2 separate regions of the Homo sapiens genome follow, and region 1 is linked to region 2. Evidence: fine-mapped expression QTL. Tissue or cell type: whole blood. Region 2 holds a variant in brackets; the other region holds the start of a gene. All regions are shown on one strand. Distances are between the middles of the regions.

Region 1 (7,818 bases), 61 kb before region 2:
CACGATCTCGGCTCACCGCAACCTCTGCCTCCCGGGTTCAAGCAATTCTCCTGCCTCAGCCTCCTGAGCAGCTGGGATTATAGGCGTTTGCCACCACGCCCAGCTAATTTTTGTATTTTTAGTAGAGACAGGGTTTCACCATGTTGGCCAGTCTGGTCTCGAACTCCTGACCTCGTGATCTGCCCACCTCGGCCTCCCAAAGTGCTGGAATTACAGGCATGAGCCACTGTGCCCCGCCATGAATGCACTTCTTTAGTGCCCTTACTACCTGTGCCCGGTCCTGCACGCAGGGCCACTGCCTATTAGAATAGAAGGCACGGTGTCTATGACCCATCATACTTATAGGAGCCCATGATAATGTTCTAGCTTTAATTTATTTTAAAGTCAGAAGAAAAAGAGAATACAACAATGATGAATATGTAATAATGAATCCAGCCTCGTCTATCTTCATGTCTATACCAAGGCAATGTAAGACTTAATTTTAATATTTGTATAGAGCATTGGTCCATGAAAGCAAATGTGCATATGTCCTAGGGAAGTCACAGTGGGCCCTGCTTCCATGGCCTCCCCTAAGTGTCCAGTGACATTTCTCCTTACTGTGGCATTCCTTTTCCGAGACACCAACTATTTCTTCCAAATTTTTGTCTTCCTTGGCTTTCTTTACCTTCACAACTCCCATTTCCTCAGCTATATAATCTCACTAAGCTGAATGACAAATGAATTATGAAATTAATAGACCCTCAGTGCTAGTGACTGAGGTGTCCCCAGTGGCCTCCACCAAGTTAAGATCCTCTGGAATTTCTCCGGATCTTCGAGGCAAGACTCTTACTCCAGTGTCATCTTCGTCCATCTGAAGCCCACCTCTAAGGAACCCAACATAACTTCACTTTAGTTTATTCACAAACATGACGTTCCATTGGATCAACTGTGGCAGGATCTCAGGGTTGAGGAGAAAGATGACTAATCAAACAGAGCCAAGTTTGGAGGGGAGTTTAGAAACAGGGCGAAATATCATTTTAGTTAGGAAAATACTCAGTCTCCAAAACACATCTGAAAGGTCCCCCTTCTTTTTGTAAAACCATACCAGGCTTCCAAGAAAAGACATTTTCAATGAGAAAAATGTGAAAGCAACCTTTCTATACTCACAGGCCTTAAGTATAATCTGTGATCTGCCTCATGAGACTGTGAATGTCTCCTCTTACTCATCTCTGTGGCCCTATGTTAATACAGCTCCTGGTGCATTTAACTGCTTAGAAAGTACTCTTTAATGACACTCAATTAAAAAGAACGAATTATAAAAAAGAAAGCCCTTTTTGCCATTAAGGTAACATATTTTCAGGTTCCAGAGATAAGGGCATGTATGTCTTTGGGGGCCATTACTGAGCCTACTACACTAGTTTTGTAAGTAAATTTAGAGCAACTAAACTTTAGTTTTCTAATTTTTGTAATAGAAAGAATTCTATGTCCAGCCACTGGATCCTGAAACTCTAGACTTTTATCTCAGATATCAAGAGGAAAACCACATGAATAAATACCTGTTTCTTTAAAGCTGATGTAATCTTGACCCTATTGTATTTCCTCCTTCTGGATACATGCCCTTCATTATTTTATTCTAAAATTTATTCTCAGGATCTGTTGACATTGTCTTTTGTTGTTCATATGGAAAACTCAAGCTTTTCAGTTTGCCAACATTCTCAACTCTTCAGAATTTCTACTGATGTCTAGATTATACTTCAGGCAATGGATCCCATGTTTACTACTTAAACGTGCTTCATCTATGAAACCTTCAGTTGGACACATCTTATATTAATGAAGTCTCTTAACTCTGCAGTTTCTACTATACCTTGATTTATCAAGTTCTTGATTCATCAAGAGTTGTCATTAGGTCTCTCTTCTTTCCTCTTTGCATTCTTTCAATACCCATAGAAGTTTACGTATGAAAATTAGGCTAAATAATATACTAAATTGAAATTGATCAGACTCCACTTATTCTACACAAGTAAGTTTGGAAACATCTAATTTAAAGAAAAGCACTTTCTCACTATGGTTTCAGCAGTCAAGATGATTGCCTTTCCAACATCAGTTTTACTTTAAATAATTTGTTTAGGTCAGCCATGCTAATTTCATTGTGGTTGGCATAGGAGTCACTGTGGATAAAGAGTTGTGACCCAGCCTTAGCCAACGCCACATAAGAAGCACTGTGCTGGGTACTTCTAGGAGAGTTTCTCTCACTTCTAAGAAGGAGCCTTTGAAGAGAGGTTGCTTCTCTTCTTCAAGGGGATATTGTCCCATTGCAAGGTGAGGTGTGAAATTGCTGTGGAGTCTCCACCCAGCCTGAGGACGACATCAATACACAGAAGAAGAAAAAGGAGAAGATGAGAGAAATTCTGCACTCTCATGGATGACACCCAGAGTTTACCCTCCCTCTGGACTTCTTGTTATGGGACTAACACATTTTTGTGGATTTTAAACCAATTTGAATTACTTTTTTTGCACCTGCCTGTACTCTAATCCAAACAACCATCCAAGTTAATAATTTTCTCTTTACAATGCACCCTGCATTTTGTACCTATACAAGAGTGGTCAGAATGTGTGAAAACTGCTGAGTCATCCTGACAGCATGGCTCCAGTAGATTCTAGGGGTCGGCTATAGTATTGAGTGATATTAAAATAACAAATAATGCACAAAAGGCATGGATCTAAAAAAGTCTTTAGGAATCTTCACTCACTGAGAGCTCATATTCAGGACACAGTTTCTTCTTCAAATCACCTTGGACAAGTAAGTAACCCTTTTTGTTCCCTTTTCTGTAAAATAAGTTACAAGTTAAATCTACTTTGTAGGGTATTTGAGAGGATTCCCTGATAGTCTTGCCTGATACAGAATAGAAACTCAAAATCTTAGCTAGTAGCGTTGGTGTCATTGCTATTATCAGCACTATAATTTCCCTTGAGTTAGCCAGAAGAAATACTAAGTTTATTGGACAGTGAGTACAGGGTTGCCTTGCTCAGATGTACTGAGCCTACTGTCAACTTTAAGCCGCTCTCTGTGAGGTTAGAGTTTATCTTGGTCTGGGAGGACCAAGCAGAGTGCTTTAGAGATGACAAGCACAGCTGTGTTAAGAGACAACTTCCAAAGTTTGTGACCACATAGGATAAGTTACTCTAACTTTCAGTGCAGTTGAGCAAGAGTCCTTGATTGGTTTCTGTTGTGAATGCCAATATTTTTGTGTCATTTTGTGGGATCTTCCAGACACTGTCTGAGAGAAAATCTCCATAGCCTGGAGAGGAAGAAAAATGTCTGGATGGTGGGGTTTTGTCTCCTAGCACAGTTACCACCCAATGACCATCCTTCTTTACTTTTACAGGCCATTATGTTAAGCCTTTTTCATTTGTTGCTCTCCCATATCCCTATTTAGACTTTGATATCTGAAGGTGGAAACCATCCCTTTTCCCTCTGGAGCTGGAGTGATGTTCACGGAAGGCAAAGCAGCTGGGCCTGAATGGGGCTAAGCTCTGGGAGCCATGAGTGTCTCCACAGAAACAGAGCAGGACACCCGGAGGGACCACCCAAAACCTTGGGTCCGTTTGTGAGGCCATCAGATCCTCAGCTGGCATTTGACAAGGAGGATCAAGGTTGCAACAGCCTAAAGAAGTTTAATTTCAAGAAAACAGGTAACTTTTCTTTCTTCTTACTCATCTGAATTTGTGGATTGAAAATTATTTGCACCATATAGAGGAGTTTTCTAACTATCAAAGCACCAACAGTGGAGTTATTTGCTGCAGGACATGTTGAAATGATTCTCATTGAAGACAACTGGATGAATTCCCAGTGATGTTTGAAATGCAGGTTTGCCAGAGGAAAAGTCTGTTGAATTCTGTTTTTGAGAACCAGACATTTTCTTATAGATTAGGATAAACTCCTTGCATAATAAAGGTGTTTATCCATGGACTTCACATTTTATTCCTGTTGCTGTCTGATACTTTCCCCAATTACTTGGTTTAATTTGGCCTTCAAGCTCCCCTCCAACCCTGAGAGGCTGTTAGTGTGAACCCAGAAAGATTTATTCTGTCCCATGTTTTTATTTCTCCTGGAGCACAGTAGCACGAAAGAGGAGTGGATAGTATCCCCAAAATACAGAAGGGAGGAAACGGATGTGGAGAGAGAGGGAAGTAACCAGGGTACTTTGTCCACCTTCACATGATCCTAGGGATTATCCTGTGTCACAGGCACTTCAGAGTTGTTTTATTTTGGTGGTGTCTAAAAGATTTTAGTCTTAAAACACACATCCAGCCTGGGCCACAGACGTTGTCTCTACAAATAATAAAATAATTAGTCGGGCGAGGTGGCATGCGCCTGTGGTTCCAGCTAATAGGGAGGCTGAGGTGGAAGGATCACCTGAATCCAGGTGGCTGAGACTACGTAAGCTATGATGGCACCACTGCACTCCAGCCTGGACGACTCCTTCTCATAAAACCAAACCAATCCACACACACACACAGAGAAGAGAAACAGAGTTTACTTTTGAATATCGTTGAGAGAATATACTGAATTGCCTGGCGTGATGCGAATGAAGCAACATAGTTCTGTTCCTATAACAAGGACATTGGAAACAAAATTTTCACCAGTTGTAGCATTTCCAATTAGTCTAGTTGGGAGTCACCAGGATTAGATCAAAGTATAAATCCAAAGACTGTCAGAAAATATTCTGAATTCAGGAGAGAAGGGAAATCATGATAGAACAGGAAGTCTGATCTGTGTACAATCAGAAGATATCATAATCCAAATTTTACATCAAGTTAGGGGTACATGCAGGGTTTAACTCTGGAGAAACTTCACACAGAAGTCTGAAGACACCAAGAAGTGTCTTGGCAGCTGAGTAAAGGCAGCTTGGGATGAAGTTGAGAGTGCTGGGCATCTGCCAGGAAATTTCATGGTATTCAGCTTCATCAGAAATATGACTTGCAACTAAATATTTTTATCCCATTCTATAGGTTGCTTTCTGATGCTTAGTAGTCTCTTTTGATGCAAAAATGTTTTAATTTATGAAGTCTCATTCATCTATGTTTTCCTCTGTTGACTGTGCTTTTGGTGTCACTTGCATTTGATTTTCAGCAATTTCAGCCCTGTGGCTGTAAGACATAGGATTCTCACTCAGCGCACACCTAGAAGCTCTTAGGTCATGTGTGCTTAATCCAGGATTTTGAATTCCTGAGCTCACCCTTTTTTTTCTTCCTCTTTCCAGCAATATGAGGTGCAACTAACCAACATCATTCTATTCTTAGTTTTCCACAAATGTTTGAAAGTATCACATACAGAGTCACTATTTTTTTTGCCTCTTTTAAGTTGTTAAGTAGAGTATCAATGCAGATGTTTTGTGCACTCTATAAATACTTCATATCATGGACTATCAGTGCTCTCTTCATTATTGGAAATAAAGTCCTTCGCATTTTCAAGTCTAATCTGATTAGACTGACAATGCCAGAAACCCCAAAACCAATTCAGGAAACTCAAAATTCTATTCCTCTAGAACTGCTCCAGATACCAAAATCTATATTAGTCAGGGTTGTCCCAAGAAACAAAACATATAGTGTGTGTGTGTGTGTGTGTGTGTGTGTGTGTGTGTAAATGAAAGAGGAAATCTCACATGAAAGACTCAATCAATGCAGCAAACTTTATTTTATTTTATTTTATTTTAAATAAATGACCACAGCCACCTCACCCGTTAGTAACCACCACCCTGGTCAGTCAGGAGGCATCGACATCATATCTAAAACCTCCACTATCAACAAGATTATGACCTGCTGAAGGTTCAGATGACTATTGGCATTTCTCAGAAATAAAATATTTTTAACAAATGCATGCATATTTTTTTCTTTAGCTGTAATGCTATTGCACACTAAATATATGACAGTATAGTGTAAACATAACTTTATATGTACTGGGAAATCTAAATATTTGTGTGACTCATTTTATTGTCATATTTGCTGCATTGCAGTAGTCTAGAATTGAACTTGCAATATCTCTGAGATATGCTTGTATATAATATGTTGTCTATATCTTATCACAGTTTTTGACTAAATTTTATTTTTCCTGGTCCTAGTATAGCCACCACAGCTCTTTTTTGTCACTGTTTTTATAGAATATCTGTTTCTGTCTTTCACTTTCATACTAGTCACATCTATAGATGCAAACTGAGTTTCTAGTGCTGAGTATATAGTTGGATCTTGTTTCTTTTAATCCATTTTGCAAATTGATCTGCCTTTTGGTGTGGGGGTTTAATCCATTTACATTTAAAGTATATTCATGTGCTGCATAACAACATTTTGGTCAATGATTGACCATATATACAACAGTGGATTTATAAGATTACAAAACCTATTACTGCTCCTTTTATATGTTTATGTACACAAATACCATTGTGTTACAATTGCCTTATAGTATTCAGTAGAGGAACATGCTGCACTCTACTGTTTATAGCCTACAGGCAATGGTCTAGACCAGAAAGCCTATAGTAGAATATACCATTTAGATTCATGTAAGTTCACTCTATGGTGTTCACATGATGCTTGAATTGCCTAAAAATGCATTTCTCAGAATGTATTCTTATCATTAAATGACAGATAACTATAATTAGTGACAGCAACTTAATTTTGCATTTTAATATTTTTCTTTTCCTGTATGTCTATAGCATTTTGTTCTTCATATCCTCCATTACTAACATTTTTTTGTGTGTGTCACTGATTGATTTTTAGGGACACTTGGATTTCCCTCTCATTTTCACTTGTGTATATTCTATAATTGTTTTCTTTGTGGTTACCATGAAAATGACATAAAACATCCTAGAGTTATAAAATCTCCTTTGAAATCAATACACATTTAATTCTGTACATAAATTCCCCTTTTCCACATCTGTGTTTCTCTCAACTTCACATTACTGATGTCACTAATTACAACCTCATACATTGTGTACATGTTAACATAGATTTATAGTTATTTGTACACATTTGAATTTTAAATTTTTTTTTTTTTTTGAGACAGAGTCTTGCTCTGTTGCCCAGGCTGGTGTGCAGTGGCACAATCTTGGCTCACTACAAGCTCCGCCTCCCAGGCTCATGCCCTTCTCCTGCCTCAGCCTCCCAAGTAGCTGGGACTACAGGCGCCTACCACCATGCCTGGCTAATTTTTTATACTTTTTAGTAGAGATGGGGTTTCACCATGTTAGCCAGGACGGTCTTGATCTCCTGACCTCATGATACACCTGCCTTGGCCTCCCAAAGTGCTGGAATTACAGGCATGAGCCACTGCACTCAGCCAAATTTTAAAACTTGAACAGAAAGCTAGTATAAACAAAACTTTCAAAAATACATGTTTTTGTATTTTGTCCCATATTTACCTTGATGAGAGGTCTTTATACTTGATACGACTTTACATAACCATCTAATCTAACATTCTTTTATTTCATAGTGAATTACTCCCTTAAGCATTTCGTGTAGAGTAGTTCTAGTGGCAATGAGCTCTGTCAGCTTTTGTTTATATCACATTGTCTTTATAACTTCCCAATTTCTGAAGGTCATTTTTGTCAGATACAGAATTCTTGGTTGGCAAGTTTTCTTTTTTCTTTTACCAATTAAAAAATATATATAATCTCATATGCCCTCCAAGGTGTCTGATAAGAAATCTCCTGATAACTTCATCCAGAATTCCTTGTACCTCATGAGTTATGTTTCTCTTGCGGCTTTTCAAATGATCTCCTTGTCTTTGGCTTTTGAGAGTTTGATTATAATGTATGTGGGTCTGGGTCTTTTTCAGTGTATTCT
Region 2 (7,818 bases):
TACTATCCCAGTTTATAAAAGCACATTAATACTTTTATAAGATATTAATAGACAATAATATATTACTTTGTATTACTACATAATATTTTACTATATAATATATTAACATATTGTCATGTTTCCAATATAGAAAAAGTCATGATATTAGCAACCACGAGAAAATGTCATAAAGAATTTGACTACATTAAGAGTAGAAACTTTTGCTTATTAAAACCACCATAAAGGGAATCAAAATACGGGTACATTTTGGGAGAGGCTATTTCAACAATACATTTGAAGCTGTTAAAGAATATCCAGAATATGGATTCTGGATTAATTCTGTAGAGCTGCCTCATTGCCCTGCACACACGTGAGAAAGCCCAGCCAGAAACAGGACGAGACTGAGTTCAGGTGGAGCTTTAGGCTAAACTTCAAACCATGGAATTGTCAGTTAAATAAATGGTTTTGTATTAAACCTCTATGTTGAGAGGTTTTCTTTAATAAGTTTACTCAGTATAATTATGATCTTCTACACATAGAAAAAGACATGCAACCTAATAAAATACCCAAAGATTTCAACAGGCACTCAACAAATAATTCTAAGAGAATAAATATATGAAATTTATACTGAGTAAACAAGGACATGAAAAATCTGCAATGATTTTTGAAGATTAGAGAACACCTAACCCAACTCCTCACTTCAGAAAATGAAGAAAAGGTGATGTCCCTAGCAGAGGGATAGAGTTAAGTTGCCAACTTTATGTTGTGAAACCAAAATTCCTGGTTTTGGTCCCATCCTGATTCTCTCCACCCATGCTGCCCCTCCTGTGGTAGAGTAGAAAACACTTATGCACACAAAGCATTTGTGCATAGGAAATGCCCAGGAAGTGGACTTAGTCCAAGGGTGTCCTGAGAACCTTACAAGAAGCACACGTGTGAAGGACACTGTGCAGGAGCCCTGATGCCCACCCAACTCCTCACCTGGATGTTCTCTCTGATCCGCTGCTCATTGTAGCTCTTGGCCAGGACCACAACCCCACGCTGCAGCTGGTAGCGCAGGGCAATCAGGGCTGGGGTTTGTTTGTGTTTCTTTGCTAAGGCACAAAGAACTGGGTCCTCCAAAAGAACTGGGGAGTTTGGGTCCACCCTGGAAGGAAAGCCAGAAATGCTGAAGTCTTGAGGCTGGATTCAGTTTGGTAGGAGGCTCCCTAAACAGACTAAGGTGTTCATTCTGCACCAGAGCCTCTCAAGTGAGGTCCCTGAACAGCAGCAGCATCACCTGGTATCTCATAAGAAATGCAAATTATCCCCTTACCCTGACCCATTGAGAATGAACTCTAGGAGACTGAGTATGCTATAACTAAAATTTTTCATCAAAATGGCATTTTAGGTAAACTTCCTGATGCTCTTATTACCATAGTTTATGTCGTTGGGTTCCCAGAGCACTGTGGGCAACCAGAACAATGTCTTTTGACTTGCAGAAATCCAGCAGTTTGCTCTGGTTGAGGTAAGGATGACATTCTACCTTTAGATGATCAAGAGAGAAAAGCATCAGATAATTCAAAACAGATATGTTAATATAAAGATTAAAATAAGCTGAATAAAGTATAACATTAAATTTGAACAGAATATTACTGTCAAGTAACAATCATTTTATAAAAATACAGTTTATATTACTGGTCTAAAAGTATATATAGAAATGTTATTTCTGAGCATTAGCAACTCTATGAACCAGAGCCAGTTTCTAACAACCTTTGACCACTAGAAGTGCACATGGCCAATTCTAGACTTGGGATAGGTTAAGATTCTGAGCTTTGAACATCAAATTGTGCCAGAATGTAAGAATTTCTTTAAAGACTCATAAGGGCAGGTTTAAAAGAGAAAAGTAGTTTTATAGGAATCCCAGTAACATTTGCATAGATTTGAGCATCAAAAACCAACAATGAATAAAATGAATTACAAATTATAGCAAAACAATCCATGTCTTCATAGTGTTGAGTGGTTAAAAGACAGAGTGATCAAAAGTATTTGCCTTCACCAATGGTGATTCATATGTTTTGGCTGTGTGTCCCCACCCAAATCTCATTTTGTAGCTCTCATAATTCCCACATGCTGTAGGAGGGGCCCAGGGGAGATAATTGAATCATGGGAATGGGTCTTTCCTGTGTTGTTCTCATGATAGTGAATAAGTCTCTCAAGATCTAATGATTTTAAAAATGGGTTTCCCTGCACAAGCTGTCTCTTTGCCTGCTGCTGTCCATGTAAGACATGACTTGCTCCTCTTTGCCTTCTGCCATGATTGTGAGGTGTCCCCAGCCATGTGAAGCTGTAAGTCCATTAAACTCCCCTTTTTCCCCACTCTTGAGTATGTCTTTATCAGCAGCATGAAAATGGACTAATATGGTAGAGTGGGGCATTGTTGAAAGATAGATACCTGAAAATGAAGTGACATTGGAACTAGGTAATATGTAGAGGTTCTGACAGTTTGGAGGGCTCAGGAGAAGACAGAAAAGTATAAGAAGGTCCGGAACTTCCTAGAGACTTGTTGAATGTCTTTGACAAAAATACTGATAGTAACCAGGCTGAGGTGGTCTCAGATGGAGATGAGGAACTTGTTGGGAACTGGAGCAAAGGTGACTCTTGTTATGTTTTAGCAGAAATTGACATTTTGTCCCTGCCCTAGAGATGTGTGGAACTTTGGACCTGAGATGATTTAGGATATCTGGTCAAAGAAATTTCTAAGCAAAGCATTCAAGCAGTGACTTGGGTGCTGTTAAAAGCATCCAGTTTTAAAAGGCAAACAGCATAAACGTTCAGAAAACTTGCAGTCTGATGATGCAGTAAAAATTAAAAACCCATTTTCTGAGAAGAAATTCAAGCCAGCTGCAGAAATTTGCATAAGTAACAAGGAGCCAAATGTTAATCACCAAGACAATGGGGAAAATGTCTCCAAGGCATGTCAGAGACCTTTGTGTCAGCCCTTCTCATCACAGGCCCAGAGGGAGGTGGAGGTCTAGGAGGAAAAAATGGTTTCATGGGCTGGGCCCAGGGTCTCCATTCTGTGTGCAGTCTAGGGACTTGGTGCCCTGCATCTCAATCACTCCTGCCGTGACTAAAAGGGGCCAAGGTACAGCTCAGGCCATGGCTGCACAGGGTGCAAGTCCCAAGCCTTGGCAGCTTCTATGTGGTAGTGAGCCTATGTGTGCACAGAAGTTAAGAATTGAGGTATGGGGCTGGTCGTGGTGGCTCACGCCTGTAATCCCAGCACTTTGGGAGGCTGAGGCAGGCAGATCACAAAGTCAGGAGTTTGAGACCAGCCTGACCAACATGGTGAAACCCTGTCTCTACTAAAGATGCAAAAATTAGCCAGGTGTGGTGGCACGTGCCTGTAATCCCAGCTACTCTGGAGGCTGAGGCAGGATAATCACTTGAACCTGGGAGGCGGAGGTTGCAGTGAGCTGAGATAGCGCCATTGCACTCCAGCCTGGGCCTGGGTGACAGAGTGAGACTCCATCTCAAAAAAAAAAAAAAAAATTGAGGTTTGGGAACCTCCACCTAGATTTCAGATTTTAGAGGATGTATAGAAACGCCTGAATGTCCAGGCAGAAGTTTACCACTAGGCATGCACTCTCATGGTGAACTTCTGCTAGGGCAGTGCTCTGGGGTCAGAGCCCCCACACAGTCCCTGCTGGGGCACCACCTAGTGGAGCTCTGAGAAAAGGGCCACCATCCTCCAGACCCTAGAATGGTAGATCCACTGACAGCTTGCACTGTGCACCTGGAAAAGCTGCAGACACTCAATGCCAGCCCATGAAAGCAGCCAGAAGGGAGGCTGTACCCTGCAAAGCCACAGTGGTGGAGCTGCCCAAGAACATAGGAACCACCTCTTACATCAGCATGGATGTAAATGGAGTTCCATTGACTCCTGGATGTGAAACATGGAGTCAAAGGAGATCATTTTGAAGCTTTAAAATTTGCCCTGCTGGATTTCAGACTTGCATGGGTCATGTAGCCCCTTTGTTTTGGCCCATTTCTCCCACATGAAACAGCTGTATTTGCCCAATGCCTGTACCGCCATTGTATCCTGGAAGTAACTAACTTGCTTTTGAGTTTACAGGCTTATAGGTGGAAGGGACTTGCCTTGTCTCAGATGAGACTTTGGACTGTGGACTTTTGATCTAATGCTGAAATGAGTTAAGACTTTGGAAGACTATTGGGAATGCATGATTGGTTTTGAATTGTGAGGACATGAGATTTGGGAGGGGCCAGGGGTGGCATGATATGGTTTGGCTATGTGTCCCCA[C/T]CCAAATGTCATCTTTTAGCTCCCATAATTCCCATGTGTTGTGGGAGGGACCTGGTGGGAGATAATTAAATCATGGGGGCAGATATTTCCCATGATGTCCTTGAGATAGTGAATAAGTCTCATGAGATCTGATGGTTTTATAAGGAGGAGATTTCCTGCACAAGCTCTTTCTTTGCCTGCCATCATCTATGTAAGATGTGACTTGTTCCTCCTTGCCTTCTGCCATGATTGTGAGACCTCCTCAGCCATATTGGAACTATAAGTCCCAGTCTTGGATGTGTCTTTATCAGTAGCATGAAAATGGACTAATATAGTGATTATTACAGTAATTTTTTTTCTAGGAAATGAATAATTAAAGGGAAGGAGTTAAGCTTTTGGCATATCTGAGAGCAGTAATTGTTTCTTTTCTTGACTTTGTGAAAAAAATTTTTTTATAATAAAACGTAAAGAATAGTAAAACTTGTAGTTAAAATTGAAAGTAATTACTTTAAAGCCCCAAGGAAAGAACAAATACAATAATACAATACAAAAATTTAAAACATCATTGATGTATACTCAATCATCATGTGAAAATTTGCTGTGTAATATAACTTTCCCTCTTATTTCACCCAGCAGATTACCAGTAATTACAAAGGGGAGAACACATGTCTCTGGAAATTAGATCTGGTTACCACTTGTTTAACCAAGTGATCAAAATTAGCATCACTAATTGTGGGACAATCTGTCATTTCATGCTGCCTACTGTGGTATAATTTCAGGGATACAGCAATGTAGAGGCAGTTTCTCACCAAAAATGTTTAACTTCTATGATATAAAGCATTCAAGTATAACTTCTAATCTACACAAACTTAAATTTTAAAAACTTGGAACAACAAGTTAACGGACCAAAGTACAACAAACTGAAAGTCACAATTGGATGTTTTTTTTTTGTTTTTGTTTTCATGATACATCTTTTATTTATTCTTCATTGTTTTATAATTCTCTCCTTAGAGGTCATACACATCTTTTATTAGGTATAATTTCAGGTACTTAATATCTTATGGTATCTTTAAATTTTTTCATCTTCTATTTATGGTTAAAATAGAGGTATAAGAGATCTTTCAATAAAACAATGGGAAATATGAATACTGACTGGATAATCAATGATATGAGGGCATTATTGTTATTTCCTTAGATATAATAATTGCACTGTTACTGGGAGAATATCTTCATTCCTATGCCATGCTTTGAAAGGTCTGTAGAGGTGAATTGTGATCATTGGAATATATTTTGAAGAGATTCAACAAATACTACCTGTATTGATGCAGATATACTCATATATGCCTATATACTTGCCAGGTTGGCAAAGTGTCAACAATTTTGGAAATAGATGATAACATGTAGATGTCCTGTATTATCCCTTCAAATTTCTCTAAAATTTGAAAGTTGTCATAATAATAATTGAGTAAAACTAATATTAAAACCACATTAATTCCTTTTTAATTGAAAATCATGATTTTGTATTATATTACCAAATACATAAATTTTAAATACATGTTTCAACTGTAGACCTGTACTCATTGACTCTAAGTAGTAAAAGAGTAAGAGAACAGAACCATACGCAGAATAAATGCTTCTAAACAGTTGATTTGATGACAGAAAGCAAAGCAGTGCATCAGAATAAGATGTGGACAGTCAAAAGGTCAGCTCAATGTTCTGCTAAATTTTCCTCAGTGTTGATTTCATCCACCATAACTAGTTATCTCCATAAATAGTTAACTTTCCTTTTTTTCACTCTTTAAAGTTTTATTTCACTAACTTTGCATCAAATTTCCACAATTGTGTTCTGGTTAATTTACTATACTTGCTTGACTTCCCAAAATGATAGTACCAAAATATTTGTGGGCTAGGGAGAAGAGACCATTTCAAGCATTACTGCATTTACTCATCTTCCACAAAGCCACAGAGTTGGGCATCTGATTGTTCAATGAAATGAAGCTTTGATAGCACCCAGGAGGGCATACAGGAAAACTAGGCTGTAGACAGTCTTGCATTTGTCAAAATCAGACCAGAGAAAATCTATTCTACATATATAGAAAAGGTATCATATTCATCTTTTTATATTACTGCAATATTTTTCTCTTCATTATCACATCATGGAGTTTCTCAAGTCCTTCCTTTATTTCATGTCCTATGATTGCACAGGTAGGCTGCAAATGCCAAGGAGTTGATGAGCTTAGTTCAACCATTGCTAACAATTTCTCAATTTCTGAGAGAGACAAGTTCTTCAAGTCTAGTTTCTTAGCACCTGTAAGTACAGGGACATCTTTATTTTCTTATACCCTATTTTATAAAGTTCAGTTTTGACTTCTTCCATCCTGTTAACATCAACAGTCCACAACAAACACAATGCCATCTGTGCATCTTGCATATGGCTTCTACAGTGTTCCTCATTTCTTCTGACCACCTACATCTCAGGAGTGAAAAGTGACTTTTAGAATTTTCCAAAATTACCTTAATCTTTTCAGTGTTAAATCCTTTGGTGTGGGTATGGTATTTACAAATTTATTGAATAGCAGCCTGTATAAAACAGTTCTTCTAGCACAGTTCAAACACCAAATAACAATGTGGAAGGACTGAAGTGAAGGCAGGATGGACAAGATAGTAGTTTAGCCAGTTAGCCCATTCCCCCATTTCCAGCTGCAAATAAATGTCCCAAAATGAAATGCTTTCTTTTTTATGCTTTAGAACCTCTCTTCCTAGGTGGCCCAGCTATAAGACTCCCGTTTTGGAGTCTGGGTCTAAATGAGGCAACATTGGCAGGCTTTTCTACACGAGGCAGGGGTGGGGGTAGCACGCCACATCCTTTCAGCTTATCTCTCAAGCAACTCTCATAAACGGGTAACTTCCTCTCCCTAACCTGGATGACTTTCATTGTTTCCAGTTAATTTTTAGTACCTGCTCAAGAACTATGAAAACAGAGATGACAAGAAAAAGCATTCAGACATCTAAACCCTATTTAAACCCGTAGTACCGATCTTCTCTTATTCTCACTGTCTCCTGATTTATTGCTCATCCCATGTTTTTATGGCCTCTATAATTATATACATTCTACTCCAAATCATCTTTACCAATCCACTCTCTGGTGGTCTTTCATACCTTAGAGATAAGTCCACCTTCTCCCTGAGTTCTGATTAACCATTTCAGTCCTCCTTGATGAAATTCACCTCCCCCAAAAATAGTACACACAATTTAGCATGAAGGTCTCTGTACCATTTTCATTAAGACTTCTCCAAGAAGAGGTGCAATTAAGGGTCTTCCGTTTTCTTCTAGACAGATGTTTTGCTTTCTAGAATCTTCTGTTTCACAAATGTAAGTGGAACAAAACAAATGGAAGCCAGGCAGTAGGACAGGAAGATGGACATTGAGAAGAGAAAGGAGAGGAGGCTGAGGGTGCTCACCTGGTTGCAGACAGGCTTGTACTTGAGTCCTGGCTTGTTGAGGATCATCTCCAGCTGCCTGCAGTTGAAGTTTGACACCCCGATGGACTTGGCCAA

The links. PIP is the estimated chance that this variant, and not a neighbour inherited with it, causes the effect.
Region 1: it holds the start of LINC02561, and the variant in region 2 is fine-mapped to the expression of LINC02561 in whole blood (INTERVAL, PIP above 0.99).

The regions. Positions count from the first base shown.
Region 1 is chr10:5,267,052-5,274,869 of GRCh38, reverse strand. LINC02561 (long intergenic non-protein coding RNA 2561) reads left to right here and starts at 3,634. Exons shown (of 2, transcript NR_149060.1): 1 at 3,634-3,672. RefSeq lists an enhancer at 2,132-3,331.
Region 2 is chr10:5,206,302-5,214,119 of GRCh38, reverse strand. It overlaps AKR1C4 (aldo-keto reductase family 1 member C4), which reads right to left. Exons shown (of 9, transcript NM_001818.5): 5 at 7,723-7,818; 6 at 1,395-1,504; 7 at 961-1,126. It also overlaps the pseudogene ARL4AP3. Among named protein-coding and RNA genes, the nearest start is that of AKR1C4, 13 kb to the right of the region's middle. RefSeq lists an enhancer at 3,986-4,155. The variant C/T (reference allele first, on the strand shown) is at 4,283.